2 separate regions of the Homo sapiens genome follow, and region 1 is linked to region 2. Evidence: fine-mapped expression QTL. Tissue or cell type: whole blood. Region 2 holds a variant in brackets; the other region holds the start of a gene. All regions are shown on one strand. Distances are from middle to middle.

The links. PIP is the estimated chance that this variant, and not a neighbour inherited with it, causes the effect.
Region 1: DENND4B starts here. The variant in region 2 is fine-mapped to the expression of DENND4B in whole blood (TOPMed, PIP above 0.99).

What each region holds. Positions count from the first base shown.
Region 1 is chr1:153,943,144-153,951,247 of GRCh38, forward strand. DENND4B (DENN domain containing 4B) reads right to left here and starts at 3,575. Exons shown (of 28, transcript NM_014856.3): 1 at 3,158-3,575; 2 at 915-1,254. The coding sequence starts at 1,231. CRTC2 (CREB regulated transcription coactivator 2) reads right to left here. Exons shown (of 14, transcript NM_181715.3): 12 at 5,972-6,241; 13 at 5,315-5,501; 14 at 4,532-5,186. The coding sequence ends at 4,966. RefSeq lists enhancers at 1,827-1,926, 2,247-2,296, 2,765-3,265, 4,077-4,146 and a silencer at 2,787-3,686.
Region 2 is chr1:153,640,556-153,648,659 of GRCh38, forward strand. It overlaps CHTOP (chromatin target of PRMT1), which reads left to right. Exons shown (of 6, transcript NM_015607.4): 4 at 1,691-1,874; 5 at 2,672-2,809; 6 at 4,509-5,751. The coding sequence ends at 4,714. Among named protein-coding and RNA genes, the nearest start is that of CHTOP, 11 kb to the left of the region's middle. The variant C/T (reference allele first, on the strand shown) is at 4,718.

The DNA.
Region 1 (8,104 bases), 300 kb after region 2:
GCAAAGATAGATGTTGAGAGGTCAGGGTAGAGGACAAAGACCCAATCCTGCCAGATCTGCCTATCTAATCCCCTGAACTTGCCTTGTACCCACAGCCTTGTCAAACTCTAACACTAGGGCCCACCTCTTCTTGCTGAACTCTGCCCTCCAGAATCCTGTGCCCTTTCTTTGGCCTTTGGCCTTATTTCATGGTCAGCAACAATCCTGCATGCCTTCTATGGCTCTCATACTCATTAATAAACACTAAGGGTCAGCTGGGCACGGTGGCTCATGCCTATAATCCCAGCACTTTGGGAGGCCAAGGCAGGTGGATCACCTGAGGTCAGGGGTTCAGGACCAGCCTGGCCAACATGGTCAAACCCCATCTCTACTAAAAATTCAAAAATTAGCTGGACGTGGTGGCACATGCCTATAGTCTCAGCTACTCAGGAAGCTGAGGCAGGAGAATTGCCTGAACCCAGGAGGCGAAGGTTGCAGTGAGCCAAGATCACACCACTGCACTCCAGCCTGAGTGACAGAGAGAGACTCTGTCTATAAAAAAAAAAAAAAAAAAAAAAATAGTTATACAAGCTACCACTGACTGACTCTGTTAAGTCTGTCACATGGGTTATCTCATTTAATCTCGACCATCCTATGAGGATGAATTATTTTCCCCATTTGACAGATGAGGAAAACAGGCCCAGAGGAGCTCAAAAACCTGCCTAAGCTCTCAGAGCTAGCAAGGAGCAGCACTAGCACATGAAATCGCATCTGTAAGGACTAAGTACATACAACTTCAGTCCTTCCTTCCTGGCCCCTGGCCCACCAGGCTCCCATCCCCATTGCCCTTCCCTTGTTCCATAGTCCTACCTCTCCCTGTCTCACTGGAGTCCCTCCCAGCCTCCCCTGGTGCCAGCATGGGTAGGGGCACACACCCCAGCTCAACGAGGGGGGGCTTGTCACGGCCCCTGCGGTAGCAGATGACGGGTTGAGTTCCACCCAGAAGTCCAGCACTGAGTTCCAAGGGGTGGCCCCCAGCAGAAGCCTGGATGCATGTGTAGCCCTGGGGCACTTCCTCGCCCAGTGCCCTAGCGATGACTGCCACATCTGTGATGGGCTCAGCTGGCCGGGGAGGGCGCAGGGGCCCACTGGGTTCAGGAACCCACGTTTCCTCAGGGATGGGTGCTCCGTTCCCTGCAAGCCCAGCTACCACGAAGTAATCCACCAGCCGGGGGGGCCGCTCCTCCGCCATGGCCCCCCCCTCACTCACTGCATCTGGAATGGTCAAGTGGGAGAGAGATGAAGCAAGGAAGGCTGGGGATGCCATGGCAACCAGGGTACCCTCTTGCTCCCCTCCTCTTCCTAGTCCTTCCAAAGAAAGGCAGGATAAGGGGTCGGCCAATCCTGAACTCTTCCCCCTGTGACATCACTGCCCACCACAGCTTCTTAAAGAGACCAGATCCCTCCCACTTAATGGTCCTGGCACTCCCCTCAAAGAACCTAAACTCCACCACACACAGCTAACCTGAGCTATGACATTCACATTGTCCATGTGTCCCTTTTAAAGGCTCACCAGTTATAACATCACAGAGATCACAATCTTTTTTGTAATAGCCTTCCATGACATCATTCATGCTGGCCATGACATCATACCAACCTTACAGTCTTTTCAAGGGTTTCTGACCTTCCTACTCTAGTTATGACACCATAAGAACCTTGTGATCCTGCCAATGTTCTTAAAGAGCCCACTCCTAGGTTTTTAAGAGGACCCCATGGGTTTCTGAGAAAGCCCACAAAACCCAAGCTTTAAGAGTCTTTTCAACGAACCCAAGTGTCCTTTCTCCTAGCTTAACTCCACCAATCTGGCCCAAAATCCAGTGTTCTCACACCTCCAGGATCCTTAGGTAGCTCGTTAGATCCAAAGCAGTTGTGAGAGACAAGTCCCGGCCATCCCACACCCTCCACCATGGAGCCCAGAGACAGAAACAGGCCCACAACAGCCTAGTTCTCACCTGCCTCCATGGCCCAACCCCGGGGAGTAGGAGCCCCAAGGGTCCTGAGGCGCCCCAGGGTGCAGAAGCTGGGAAAAAGCCTGGTGGGTAGCTCGCAGCAGGGGCCCAGAAGCGTGGGGGGTGCTTCAGAGGGGAAGGGAGGTTACTTCCTGAAACAGTGGAGGGGAAGCTGCAACTCAGAGGAAGTCAGCCTATGGGTGTGTGTGGTGGCGGTGGCGGTGGTGGGGTTACCATTGAAGGTGCCAGCACAGCATTACGCCAAGTTGGAATCTCAGACTATAGGATCCTGAGCAAGGCAGAGGAGGCTCAGAATGGTTCCAGGATGTGCAGTCCTGCTAACCTCCTGCTGTTCCCCCAGAGAACAGGGAATAAGGAATCTCATAGAGCCAGGCTGGCTTTCTTCATCACCTGGCCTCTGGACACACACACACACACACACACGCACACACACACGCACACACGTACACACACCAACCCCAGCTAAATTTAGACTCCACTTCTGGGAGGTAAAGCCAGGAGTCAGCGTCAGCCTCTTGATTTAATTCTGGGGCACAGACCTGTCCCTCATCCACTGAGGGCGAATGGGAGCCCTATGCCCAAGGCAGCAGGCAGAGGCCATTAGGTGGGACCTTCTGAGGGGCAAGTGGGTGGCACCCATCCGCAGGACCTGCGCACCGGGGCCTCCCCTCACCAAGCCAGGGAAGAGTCCTGCAGAAAGCAGCCCTTTCTCCCTAGGGAAGACAACGGGCACAGGGCCCACTCCGGGTCCCCACGCCCGCGTGCCGGGTGACGGGAAGTTCGGGTTGGGGCAGAGGGCGCGCCGAGGGGGAGGAGGCTGAGGAAGGAGCAGGAGGGCAGAGAAGCAGGCGCGCCGGCGGCCGAGGACGTGACGGCAGCAGCGCCGGCCGCCGCGTGACCCAAGCGGGAGGGAGGGCGGCTCCGACTCCGGCACCCACGGGAGCAGAAGGGGGTGCAGGAGGCCGGGCACGGCGAGCTAATTGCGGGAGGTGCCCTCCCCTCCACTTTCACTTCCCCAGGAGAGAGGAACCGGAACCAGATGTGCAGTGAGGGACAGCAGCTGGGGGCCATCCCCCACCCCGCCTGCCGCCCGCGCTCCCTCCTGCCCGTCCCCGCCTGCCGCCCAGCCCGGTCCAGCCCCTACCTGCCTGTCCCGCGCTTCCCGGCCGGCCGGCCCGCTGGCGGGTGGCTCGGAGGGCGAGCTGGCGGGCCGGCGGGCGGCGGGGCTACCCGGCCCCAGACATGGCGCACCCGACTTGGGCGCCGCTCCCGCCCGGGCAGTGAGTGAAGGAAGAAGAGGCGGCCGAGGACCGCAGAGCGCGGGGCGCAGTGGAAGGAGATCCGGGCGGTCCCCGCGTCCCCGCCGCGCTGCGCCACGCGGGGACTGTGCTGCCGCGCTGCTCGCTCGGCCGGCTCGGTCCTCCCAGCTCCCGCGGCGCCGGGGACCCAGCGTTCCTCCGCGCGCCCCGCTTTCTCTACTCCCCCAACCCCCGCTCCGGGCCGCGGGCGCCGCCGCTACCCCCACCCCTCCTCCTCGGCCGGCGGCCGTGACCCTGGCAAGCGTCTGCCCAAAGCCCAGCCGCCTGCAGCCCGACCCCTGGCGGCTGGGAGGGCCCCCTGCACCCAGGTAGCTTCCCACCATCCAGCCCGTGCCTCAGGACACTGACCCCAGGCGACCCAGAGGGCCGCGGCGCGCTCCCTTCCCGCCTGGGTCCTGCAGTCAGATGTGGCAAGCATGATGTGGGCGCAGGTGAAGTCCCGAAGGTCTAGTCTACGGGGACCCAGGTGGCTCCCCCTACTTCCAGGTTTAGGGCACAGGGCATTCCCTTTGGACCAGAACCAGAAGCTCTCAGTTCTCTTTTTTGAAAATGACAAGAGCTTTGGAAAGAGGAAGAGAGGCCAGGACTGCAGGGTGTGGAATAGAGCAGTGGAGGTGGGGGTAAGGTAACTGCGGGGCTCTACTTTTCTCACTATGCGGGTTGGGGGAGTGAGGGGTGCAGAGGCCCACACGGCTGGTCCAAGGGCTGGCAACCCAATCCAGAAAGAGAAAACCTTCAGAACATGCATGGCACTGAAGGATCTGTTTAATTAAAACTAAAATGAATGAGTGGTGAAGAGTGGAGAGGGTGAAGTGAATGCATGCATAGTGAGGGAGTGAGGATGAAGGCTTGCTTCCCTGAGACCTAGGAGCACTTCAGACCTGTGGGCTCAGCCAGCAATCACCTCCTTACCCGACTCACTGCCAGACCTAGGGTTGAGGAAGAGGAATAACTTGTCTGATCAGTCAAAGCCCCCATCTGATGCTGCAGCAGGGCCCTGGACAGACAGGAGGGCACATGAAGTGATTTCCTGCTGCCGTGGAAGCCTACATCCAGCTGGGTACAAATTCCGAGGCTGTGGGGCCCTTCCACAAAGCACAGTGGTGCTAAGAAGATGCAAAAAGCCTAATAGATAAAAAGACCCATGGCCCTATAACTCCCTAGATCCCCAGCCATGCCCCAAATAACTAACCACACCAAGGGTTTGATATGATTTTTTTATTAACATATAATAATATATTTAATAAAAAATAGTATCCACTCTGGCTCTCTCCTCCACTGCAAGGGGAAGAGTGGTGAGGAGGGGCTGGCACTGCCCACCCCTAGGCATCCGGAAAAGCCCTGCTTCCAGGGCTCCCCTCTACCCCTGCTTTCCAACAGGCTCTGACCTCCAGACAGACGGTTCAAAGTTACAAGTGCTTTAGGCCCTCCCTTGAGTTCCCCCAGGCCCATCCCTTGCGCAGAATTCAGGGGCCACCTGGACAAACCCCTTGCTTTTTCTCATTCTTGGCATCCTTCATTCATGCTAGAAAGAGGATCTGGGGACAGAGAGTAGAGTCTCTACCTGCCAGGGGGAAGGGAGGAAAGGAATGGTGGTGGGGGATGGGGCCAAGAAGAGGGATGGTGATGAGGTGCCCTCATTGGAGCCGGTCACTGCGGAATGACTCCTCCACAGCAGGATCAGGCAGCAGGGCACAGGGGTCACTCAGCATGTTTAGCCCTTCCAGGCCCAGTGGCTCCATGCGCAGCTCATCTTCTAGCCCAAGCCCTAGCTCCAATCCAGCTGCTGACACCTCAAAGCCAGGCACTCCGGCCAGGGCTGCTGCAATCTCCTTAGAGAAACCTGGAGAGGAGTCCCCTGTGGGTAGAAGAGACAGGTGAGGACCCCATGTCCTGTAAACTTTTCCAAGACCCCTCAATCTCCTACTCATTAGTGAATGTGTCACTTCCTCCTTCCATTTCCCATCACCACCCACCCCCATTCACCTGTGAGGATGATGTTAGGCCCTGAGCCATGGCGGGAACAGTGGGTCAAGTTCTGGTGGTTGAAGGTGTGGGGATCCTGGGGGCCACCCATTGGCCCCTCACCCCCTAAAAATCCAGGCCCTTCAGAAAAGCCAGGGGGATCCAGCACCAGGCTGGCTGATGGGCTCTCCATGCTGAACTGCTCCAGCTATAGACATACAGACAAATCTTTAGGAAGTAGGATTTAGAACTGGTGTCCTGCCTAGCCCTGCTAACATATCCCCTTTGCCCAGCAACCTTCATCCACCCCAGGAACAGAGGCAATGACAGAGGGAGGTGGCAGCAAGCAGAGCGACAGAAGCGAGCACGGGGCCCGAAGTAAGTATGGGCACCGTACCTGCTGGGCCAGAGCATGTGCATGCCAGGAAGAGAACGGGTCAAGGCAGAAGTCATCAAAGAGCAAGCTGAGCAGAAATAGAGGGGCAGGAGTAGGGTCAAACGCAGGAAGAGAGGAGCCCCAAGCTGGCAGTGCTATGTTACCTCCGGGGAGAGGAGATCTCCCCACCACCCACCCCACCTAGATCTCCCCATTCACAGTGCACCAGCCATGCCATTCAGGCCCCATTGACCCACCCTCACCCACTCCCCTGCTTTTGAGCAAGGAGCCTGAGTACTCACATTCCCCAGGTTGAAGTCACTCATTGGCCGGTGGTAAGACTGTTGCCCATGCCCACTGGGCCCAGGTGGGTACGGTGTCCCATAATGAGACTGCCTGCCTGGGGGCTGCCCACCTGAGGACTGCACTGAACAAGACTGAGAGGGCAGCCCTGGCTGCTGTAGAGACTTTGGGGTGTGGGGCTGGGTAGGCAGAACCAGACTTGGGGAGCTGTATGGGTATGGGGGTAACCGCTGGTCAGTGGACAGTTTACTGGTATCCAGGGGGACGCCCTGAAAAGAAGTAAAAAGAGGGAAGCTTACTGCTCAGTGTATACCCCAAGAACTCTCAGTCAGAGCTTCCCACCTTCTTTAGCTACAACCATTCCCAAAACAAACATGACAACATTCCACATTCTCACGGGCATCCCTGGGGTTGAGTGCAGTTACTCAACCCCAGGGATGTGTATTAGTTGGCAGGGTGTGGTGGCTCATGCCTGTAATCCCAGCACTTTGGGAGGCCCAAGGCAGGTGGATCACCTGAGGTCAGGAGTTCGAGACCAGCCTGGCCAACATGGTGAAACCCCGTCTCTACTAAAAATATAAAAATTAGCTGGGCATGGTAGCAGGCGTCTGTAGTCCCAGCTATTCGGGTGGCTGAGACAGGAGAATTGCTTGAACCCAGGAAGTGGGAGGTTGCAGTGAGCCAAGATCACACCACTGCACTTCAGCCTGGGCAACAGAGCGAGACTCCGTCTCCAAAAAAAAAAAAGTGCCTATCAGAATGAAAGTGATATAGTGAGGCTAACACAGGGGTAATTTTAAATCTACTCCAGAAGTAAACTATTCTCTTTTTTTGAGACAGGGCCTCACTCTGTTGCCCAGGCTGGAGTACAGTGGTGCAATCATAGTTGGAACTGTAGCATCAACCTTCCTGGTTCAAGTGATCCTCCCATCTCAGCCTCCCCAGTAGCCAGGACTACAAGCGTGCGCGACTGCACCTGGGTAATTTTTTATTTGTTGTAGAGACTGGGTCTCACCATATTGACCAGGCTAGTTTTGAACTCCCGCCTTGGCCTCCCAAAGTGCTGGGATTACAGGCATAAGCCACTGTGCCTAGCCTTAGAAGTAAACCATTCTTAAATCTTGATACTTGAACTATTTATTGTTAGTAAATAAGGAACTAAGGTTGAGAACTGCTGTTCTACAGCCTTGAAGAGGCCAGAGGGGGTGGGAAAAGAAAGAAAGAAAAGGAGAAAGAAAGGAAGGGAAGTCAAGCTCACTCCACACTCTGGGAACAGAGCCCTTGCTAATCTGGCCTCAGTCTTTCCTACAAAAGAGGGGACCTGAGTAAAGATGGAACACAGAACACACATTCCAGGGATAGCAATGGAGGAGGAAAAGTTGGGCAGAGGAGAGGGAAAAGAGCATTTGGATGAAAGAAAAGAGGAGTAGAGATAGAGAACAAGAAGAAAAGGACAGGAAGGGAGACAAGGGCTAAGAATTTCATCTCTGTGGAAAAAGCCCTAAACTAAGAGCTTCGAGTTCTAGTCTCAACTCTTCCTAACTTGCTGGGTAAACTTGGAAAAGTCACTTTCCCTCTAGGTCCCACTTTCCTCATCTATTAAGTGAAGGAATTGGGCTCCACAGTAGGAAATTGACTGATTCTACGAATTCTATGAAATTAGGAGGGGATACAGGGGAGGAGACGGGACAAGATAGAGGCATGAGATAAAAGACAGATATAAAACAGACAGGAACAGAGGAGGCAAATAAAAGGAAAGGGTAAGCTACTATTTGTCAAGCATACCTGGGCTATGTGTGGTGCTAAGTATTTTATGTATGTTACTTCATTTGATCCTTATGAACCATCCTTGTTTTAGAAATGAAAATACTGAGGCTTATAGAAATTAAATAACTTGTCCAAGGTGACTGCTAGTAAGAGGTGGAGCCAGGGTTTGAAGCTAAAAAAGCTTAACCACAGCGTTTGGGTTTGCACTGTGAAGCAAGAGGAGACAAGATGGATAAAAGATGGGGCAGGCGGAGGACAGAGGAATGGAAGGGGATGAGTATAGAGTAGGTATTTCAGGAAAGGAGGGTGGGAGGGAAACAACATGGCAGGAGAAAAGGGAAGGGAGACAGACATGCAGGGAAGGC
Region 2 (8,104 bases):
GATCACCTGAGGTCAGGAGTTCAAGACCAGCCTGGCCAACATGACAAGACCCCGTCTCCACCAAAAATAAGCCAGGCGTGATGACAGCTCCTGTAATCCCAGCTACTCGGGAGGCTGAGGCAGGAGAATTGTTTGAACCTGGGAGACGAAGGTTGCAGTGAGCCAAGATCGTGTCACTGCACTTCAGCCTGGGCAACAGAGCGAGACTGTATCTCAAAATAAAAATAATTGAAATAGCCACATGTAGCTATAGAGGCTGCCTTACACAGCACACCTCTAGAAGGGAAACTAAGTGGTATAGTTGACATCCTTAACTTCCCTGTTAATATTAAAGGCCGGTATTGGTGGCACTTAAGGATTGGAATGGGTAAAGAACTTCCCAGCACTGTACAGTTCTTTTAAAGCACAAAGCTTGGGAGAATTAATATATGCAGGATAACTGAACGCAAGAGACTTGTGGAATGCAGTTCTAACCTGATAATTGTGTGTTAATCGGGAGTAACAGGACAGGCCGTTACGGTTGGTTACACCTACTTATGCTAGATGCATAATGTTTGGAGCCTTCCCCACTGATGAGAAGCAATTTATGATCTTGTGCTAGAAAGTTAATAATGCTTCACAGCATCTTTTTGAGAGGTTGATTAGAAAACACACACATACACGTTGGTAGTCACTTGTGGGTGAAGCCTGAAGGGGCTATACAATTTATTTTCTTTCAGATTGACTGATGGCTTTATGGACAGCCAGGCTTACTAGGAGCTTGGTTGTGTTCAGGGCTATTGCTGTCCCTTTTTCCTTTGAAGGAATTTAATTCTCTGAGATGTAGTCTTAATGGTTTTCTTTTGAGAACAGATTCTTAAAAATACCCTATCTCTGTAGTGTGTCCTTGTTCTTATATATGGCCCTGAGTTTTGTGATCACCTGAATAATTCTAACATACGTTTGGCTGGCTGACTGTGGAGATACATTTGAGTTACATGTTTATTTTTAATTTAAGGTCATCATTGTTTTAAAGGAGCTGTTTGCAAGTGCAGGCATGGAATTAGGGATTTTTAAGAAATGTAAGGAAAGGAGATTTGACTTTCTTGTGTTTATTTACATCTTAAGGTAAAAAGTGGACCGTCTGGAAATAGATTCTCAGAGGAAAAATGGAGCACACGGGCCTTTTTGAGAAATCAATCTTGTTCTTAAGTCACAAGAACTCAAGTGAACTTGTAATTTAAGTTTTGCCCAGAGTGTGATGAACTTCCTATGGTGTTTGAGTAAGCCTTTGAAGACAGTGGTAGTCCATGGGCAGGTATGAATCAAGTCATATAATTGTCAACCTGTAGTTCAAAAGCAGTACAATCCAGGATTGAACTATAGAATGTTCTTACGAAAACTTAAGTTTCAACTGGCAGTGTATGACTTCTGTAGCCAAACTAGTGAGGTAATTTGTGGAGATGCCCATTTCATGGGACCACACTTGAGCTTCTTGGAGTTTCTGCTCTGGATCAAAATTCTGCTGCTTGTATAACATGTTCTGAGGCAAAGGCTTGCTTCTGGTTTGGGATCCTTTTGACACCCACAACAGGTTTATCTCCCTTCACACCAGCATCTCACTTGCTTCTTTTTCTCTGCACTTTGAGTTGCCAAATCCTGTTGGATTGCTTTTTTGATCTCAATCCCCTAACACCTTTTCTTCCAGAAGAGCTTAAAGCAGCGCCTGGGTAAGAGTAACATCCAGGCACGGTTAGGCCGACCCATAGGGGCCCTGGCCAGGGGAGCAATCGGAGGACGAGGCCTACCCATAATCCAGAGAGGCTTGCCCAGAGGAGGACTACGTGGGGGACGTGCCACCAGAACCCTACTTAGGGGCGGGATGTCACTCCGAGGTCAGTGCTGTGTACCCTGATAATTGTCGGGCCCTACTCCCTTCCCTTTTCTCTTGGGCTGCTTATGGACACGTTTGTTTAACATCTTTAAGCCTGAATTTGTATTAATATAATAACTTCTGAAATCACATATTTTTAATAGTGCTGCATGTCTTTTATCAATACCATTCCTTTTCTGATAATGTGCAATGGTGAGAGGCTATGACCTGCGTAACAACAGGTAATTCATGTCATCTCCATTCCATTTTAAAACACCCTGCTGTTGCTTGAATCAAAGCACATTCAAGTTCTAGAAACAAGTCAAACATAAGAAATTTATAGGTCTTTTGGCCTATATCTCTTTGTTCCTGGTGCTAGTAAAACACTGATACAGCTGGAAAAAGAGGACAAGTTGACCCACAGCACTTACCTATATATGTTCATTTGGGGCACTATTACTCTGTTCCCTGTATAGTTCTTGTTCCCTAGAAGAATCTGTTGAGATCAGGAACCATAGCATTTATTTTTAAATTTACCATAATGCTAGGCATCTATCTGATTATTCAGTAGATATTTATTAAATGTATGTACTTACTAATTGAATTAACTCCCAACTTCCAAAAATGGATTTGTGGTCAGACTTGTTGAATTGATTGAATAAAGAGTAGCTTAATCTGTTCACAGTATGCAGCTTGCCCCAGCCAACCTAAAAACTAACTGAATTACCTTCATTTAACCCTCACCGCCTTCCTTTGGTTAGAATCTACTTTGTGTCTCTTGGATTTACCTGCATATACATTGTATGCCTCCTCTCTAAGGTCAAAACCTGCTCCGAGGTGGACGAGCCGTAGCTCCCCGAATGGGCTTAAGAAGAGGTGGTGTTCGAGGTCGTGGAGGTCCTGGGAGAGGGGGCCTAGGGCGTGGAGCTATGGGTCGTGGCGGAATCGGTGGTAGAGGTTAGTCAGCTACCAACTTCAGAGAGTAGCTCCCCCTTACTTTCCTCCCTTAAAAACTCAGAGCCACCTTTCTGCACAGCTTCAAGTCATAGGCAGGCTTCTTTGTTTGTCTTGTTTTGTTATTTGAAACTGGCTTATTTTTCAAATTACCATGCTGGTAGTGCAAAAGTCTCATGATTTTTCCAAGAATCAATCAAGTGCATATTATAGAGCCAGATTATATGCCATCTTCCTCCAAGCTCTTGCAAATTTAAATTGTATAGTTGAAAATACCCCCCAAAATGGTCAGTTTAGGGTTTTGCCTTTCTCTGCCCCTGTCCCACCACCATCACCACCACATACCACCCTGTAGCTCCAAATCCTGGTTTGAGTCACATGAGAATATAGAAGAGAGAGAGAGATACAAAGATGAAGTAGAGTTAAGAGGGTGGTGAGACTTGGAGCTGGGCATTGGCTCTGAAACCAAATAAATTCAATGTCACATTTGGTGCCTGTGGAGAACCAGAGATGACTTTTTTTGCTTAAGGTAGAGAGCAAGATGGAATTATTATCAGTTAACTAACTGGCTCTTATTGATAATCTTGCCTTTGAAATTTATTGATGTTTGTCTTGTGACCTCATGACCCAGATTGGGAAAGAGTTTAATGATGTTGCTGCTGTTAATACTAAATCTCATGGGAGCCTTCTGGTTTAGAGCTTAGTGGAAAACTCCCAACACCTGTCCAGAAAAAAAACACTATTGAAGCCCCTGTGTATATTTGCTTTGGTTCTCTTAAAAGGTGTCTTGGGTCTTCCATAACTTATGACCTTGAAGTTGCCAAGGAATAATAACTGTTAGGAAAGAAAAGTTGATAACCAAGGGCTTGTTTTCTTCTCTCCCATTATATGATACTTACTGAGTGAAGTGCAAGCTAGTTTGGGTTTCAGGATGAAATAACATGTTTCCAAATTATCTTGACTTGGATCCTGAGAGACATCACGAGGGTGGGAGAGACTAAAATAGCTTTTCAAAAAGCTGAGTTTGTTTTGTTAACTGAATTCACACTGCTTCTCAGATAACCACAATTGTCAGTTGTCATAAGGTAACTAGAATTAAAGGTAGAAATAGCTAGGACAACTCAAAATATTTTTTCAAATCTCCCCTACATTGTTCCTGTGTCAGAAAAACTCAGTCTCCTGACACATGAGGTCAGCTAGCTCATTAGACTTGATAAGTTTAAGGACAGGTGAGATGACTTTCCAGAAGGGTCTCCAATAAACTTAATTTGAAAACTGTCTTGTCTTCACACCCCTGATGCTCTGTGCTCTTGTTACCACCTCCCTATCTTACCAAATGGGGTTATCTGTCATGTATTTTAATTATGAACTTAGTGAATCTCAAATGTTAGGTAATTTTATCTTAGGATTGATTAAGGTTTTTTAAAATTATAGTTGCCAGTTAATTATTTTCCTTTATTGATAGAATAAAATTTGTTAAAATAGCATTTAGAGATGATCATGTGATAGAGGATTCATTATGTGTGCTTTCCATGTGTTGCTTTCTACCCATTGTGTTTCCTTTTTTTCCAGATTTCTCCTCTTTGCCCTGCCCTTCAGCTTTTCTCAGCTAGGCCCCACTGCTCTAAGGGGCATTTACTACAGCACCTATTAAACTTACTTGTAACTGTCTCTTTTTTTTTTTTTTTCCCCTTTGGGCCAGGTCGGGGTATGATAGGTCGGGGAAGAGGGGGCTTTGGAGGCCGAGGCCGAGGCCGTGGACGAGGGAGAGGTGCCCTTGCTCGCCCTGTATTGACCAAGGAGCAGCTGGACAACCAATTGGATGCATATATGTCGAAAACAAAAGGACACCTGGATGCTGAGTTGGATGCCTACATGGCGCAGACAGATCCCGAAACCAATGATTGAAGC[C/T]TGCCCATCCTCCCATGAGAGACTCTTGTTAGTCAACACATCTGTAAATAACCTTGAGATAACAGATGAGAAGAAATCTGATTGATGCTGGATGGACCTATCACAATAGGCTGTGGACTTACTTGCCACCAGCTTGTGCATTTAGTGTGTTCCTTTTACTTTTTGATACTGTGTTGTATGAAACCCTTTTGTCCTTTGATTTGGTTTTTTGTTTTTGTTTTTTTAGGGGGGAGGGGGGGTTTCCCCTCCTTTGCCCAGACTTCTCTTTGAACACAAATGCATTAGCCTTGTGGCTAGAACACCCTCTTCCTACCTCTGTCTCCCCTCACTTGTCATATGCTCTGACATGCTAACATTTCTTTTGTTCATCCCTGTTGCCCCCACAGAAACATCCCAGAAAAACCGGTCAGTGTTCCTTCCTCCCTGATCCTTAGGTTTCTGAAATAGGGTTCTGTTACATCCTCTTCGATAGCCTGTTTAAAATGTTTAGAAGGTCTGGAGCTCAAAAATGCGTTCTTCCACATTGATAATTTAGTAAACTGAGAACATTGACATCACTACAGGGCAGCATAAGAGGTTGCTTACATGTGGTAGCAGCTCTGGTTTGATTCAAGTTGCTACCATGTACATTGACAGCACATATACCATAACCAGCGTGTTGGGTTGAATTGCACTTTCTACCTTTGTATGAGATTTACAGACTTTCCTTCTGGGTTTGTATCATGACCAGAGGGGTACTATAGGGTTGGTTTATACTGCAATATAGAGGATCAGAAGCCATTTGATTTGGTAGGTGTGTCAGAAGGGAGAATGATGGCAGACGAACTGCTGGAAGAGGTCAGAAGATAGCCATGCTAAAATGCAATTATATCCTCATGTTTATCCCAAACTAATCTTGGACTTTTCCACTCATTAGCTTTGTTTTGCCCTTGTTTCCCTTGAAGGTTTAAGTTCAACCATATTCTGTCAACTGTTCAGTTTCAGTGGAATCTTGTATTTCTGGTTCATTATAACAAACTGTTCGCTTAAATCCACCCAGGACTCTCTTTATTTGAGGTGCCTCAAAATGCCATGGCTACTTTAATGATGTTTTTTTTTTTTTTTCTTGTGACCGAGTCTCGCTCCTGTCACCAGGCTGGAGTGCAGTGGCGCGATCTTGGCTCTGCAACCTCCAACTCTCTGGTTCAAGCGATTCTCCTGCCTCAGCCTCCCGGGTGGCTGTGACTACAGACATGTGCCACCACACCCAGCTAATTTTTGTATTTTTAGTAGAGATGGGGTTTCACCATGTTGGCCAGGATGGTCTTGATCTCTTGACTTGGTGATCCACCCGCTTCAGCCTCCCAAAATGCAGGGATTACAGGCGTGACCCACTTTCAGCCTCCCAAAGTGCAGGGATTACAGGCGTGACCCACTGCACCCAGCCACTTTAATGATGTCTTGATATACCCCTTGTATGGTTGAGAGTTTCTTTCTTCTTACTTGTGTTAAAATTCTGGAGAGCCTGTGGCTTTGAGCAGAAAGTGAAGAATTTGACTTCCTCTGAGCTCTGCAGAAATAACACCACGCCCACAAAAACTCAAGGAAGATTGTCTTGGGCAACATTCTGGGCCCTTGGGCCCTGGCACATATTTCCCTTTTTCCCTATGTTGAGAGCTGAAGAGAAAAGAACCTAGTAGCGCCCAGCCAAGCCAGTTGTCATTGGGCTGCCTTTCACCCTAAACTGCCAGGAGGTTGTACTTACTGGGGGCTGGGAAGGAAATTTTGGTCAGGACAACCCAAACTTGAATCCTGTGATGTGGGGTGTCTGTAGGTCCCAAGGGAGATGGGCAGTGGGGGTCTAGCAGAAGGCTACAGGTTGGACGGTGACTGCAGAACTGAATCCCCAGTTCAGCTCCTTCTGCCTTTTCCAGTGCTAAAGCATGAGGACTTCCCCTCCCAGCCAACCTCCCCAACAACCCAAACAAGTGCAAAATGCCAGGCTCCCTCCTACCCCAGAGGAGACTGATGCTTAAGAGTTCTCTATAAAGGAGGTGACTGCCGTAGCCTAGGCTTCCTTCCTTCTACCTCCATGTCCTTCCTACTTCATTGAAAGAATTTATCCCCAAATCGCTTATGTGGGGCACAGGGAACTCTCCTATCAGCCAAGGGTCCTCCAGCCCCACCTACTGCTCACTACAGTTCCCAGGGTCTCCTGAGGCCTGTGTCCCTGTCATCCTCAGTCACTGGTCGTGTGGGACAAGGTGAGTAAACCTGACCTCCTCTGGGTCAGCCTTTCATTCAGCTGCCATGTGCTGAGGGCTTGCCATACCAACACAAGGCATCCTTTGTAAGGGTAACATTAGGAGCATAGGGAAGAGGTTGATGAGCTGGATCTTTTAAGACAAGGGAAAGTAGAGAAAATACACCAAGCAGAGGGAACCAAGTGTAAAGGTACAGTGCTAAAAGAACACCTGAGGCTGGGCACAGTGGCTTACGCCTGTAATCCCAGCACTTTGGGAGGCCGAGGCGGGTAGATCACCTGAGGTCGGGAGTTTGAGACCAGCCTGACCAACATGGAGAAACCCCGTATCTACTAAAAATATGAAATAAGCTGGGCGTGGTGGCACATGCCTGTAATCCCAGCTACTCGGGAGGCTGAGACAGAAGAATCACTTGAACCCGGGAGGCGGAGGTTGCAGTGAGCCGAGATGGCGCCATTGCACTCCAGCCTGGGCAACAAGAGTGAAACTCCATCTCGAAAAAAAAAAGGTGGTCCTGCTGCTATGAATAGATAGCTCCATGGACCCAGCAGGGGTTAGGGTAGAGGCTCCCACTTATGCCTCGGTGGGCTCTCCCACCTGCGTCACACCCTGGCTAGTGACCCAGTCAGACGTGCTGGGGACCCTGGCTGACCACCTGTACCAGGGGCAAGGAAGGAAGGAGAGGGGAGCATTGTGAAGCAGGGCAGGATGACTCTTGAAGGTGGAGACAGGCCCTGGACAGCTCTGGGACCCTTAATGGTGGCAGCAGCCCCCAGTCATAGGCCTCATTGTGTGGGCAGCCTGGGACAGCTAAGATCCCCATGAGGTCTCTTTAAAGGATTCACTAAATGCTCCATTTAGTCTTGGTTTGTTTTTTTGTTTTGTTTTGTTTTTTGAGATGGAGTCTCGCTCTGTTGCCTGGCTGGAATGCAGTGGTGCAATCTTGGCTCACTGAAAACTCCAACTCCCTGGTTCAAGCAATTCTGCCTCAGCCTCCTGAGTAGCTGGGATTACAGGCATGCGCCACCACACCCAGCTAATTTTTGTATTTTTAGTAGAGACGAGGTTTCACCATGTTGGCTAGGATGGTATCGATCTCCTGACCTCGTGATCCATCTGCTTCGGCCTCCCAAAGTGCCGGGAT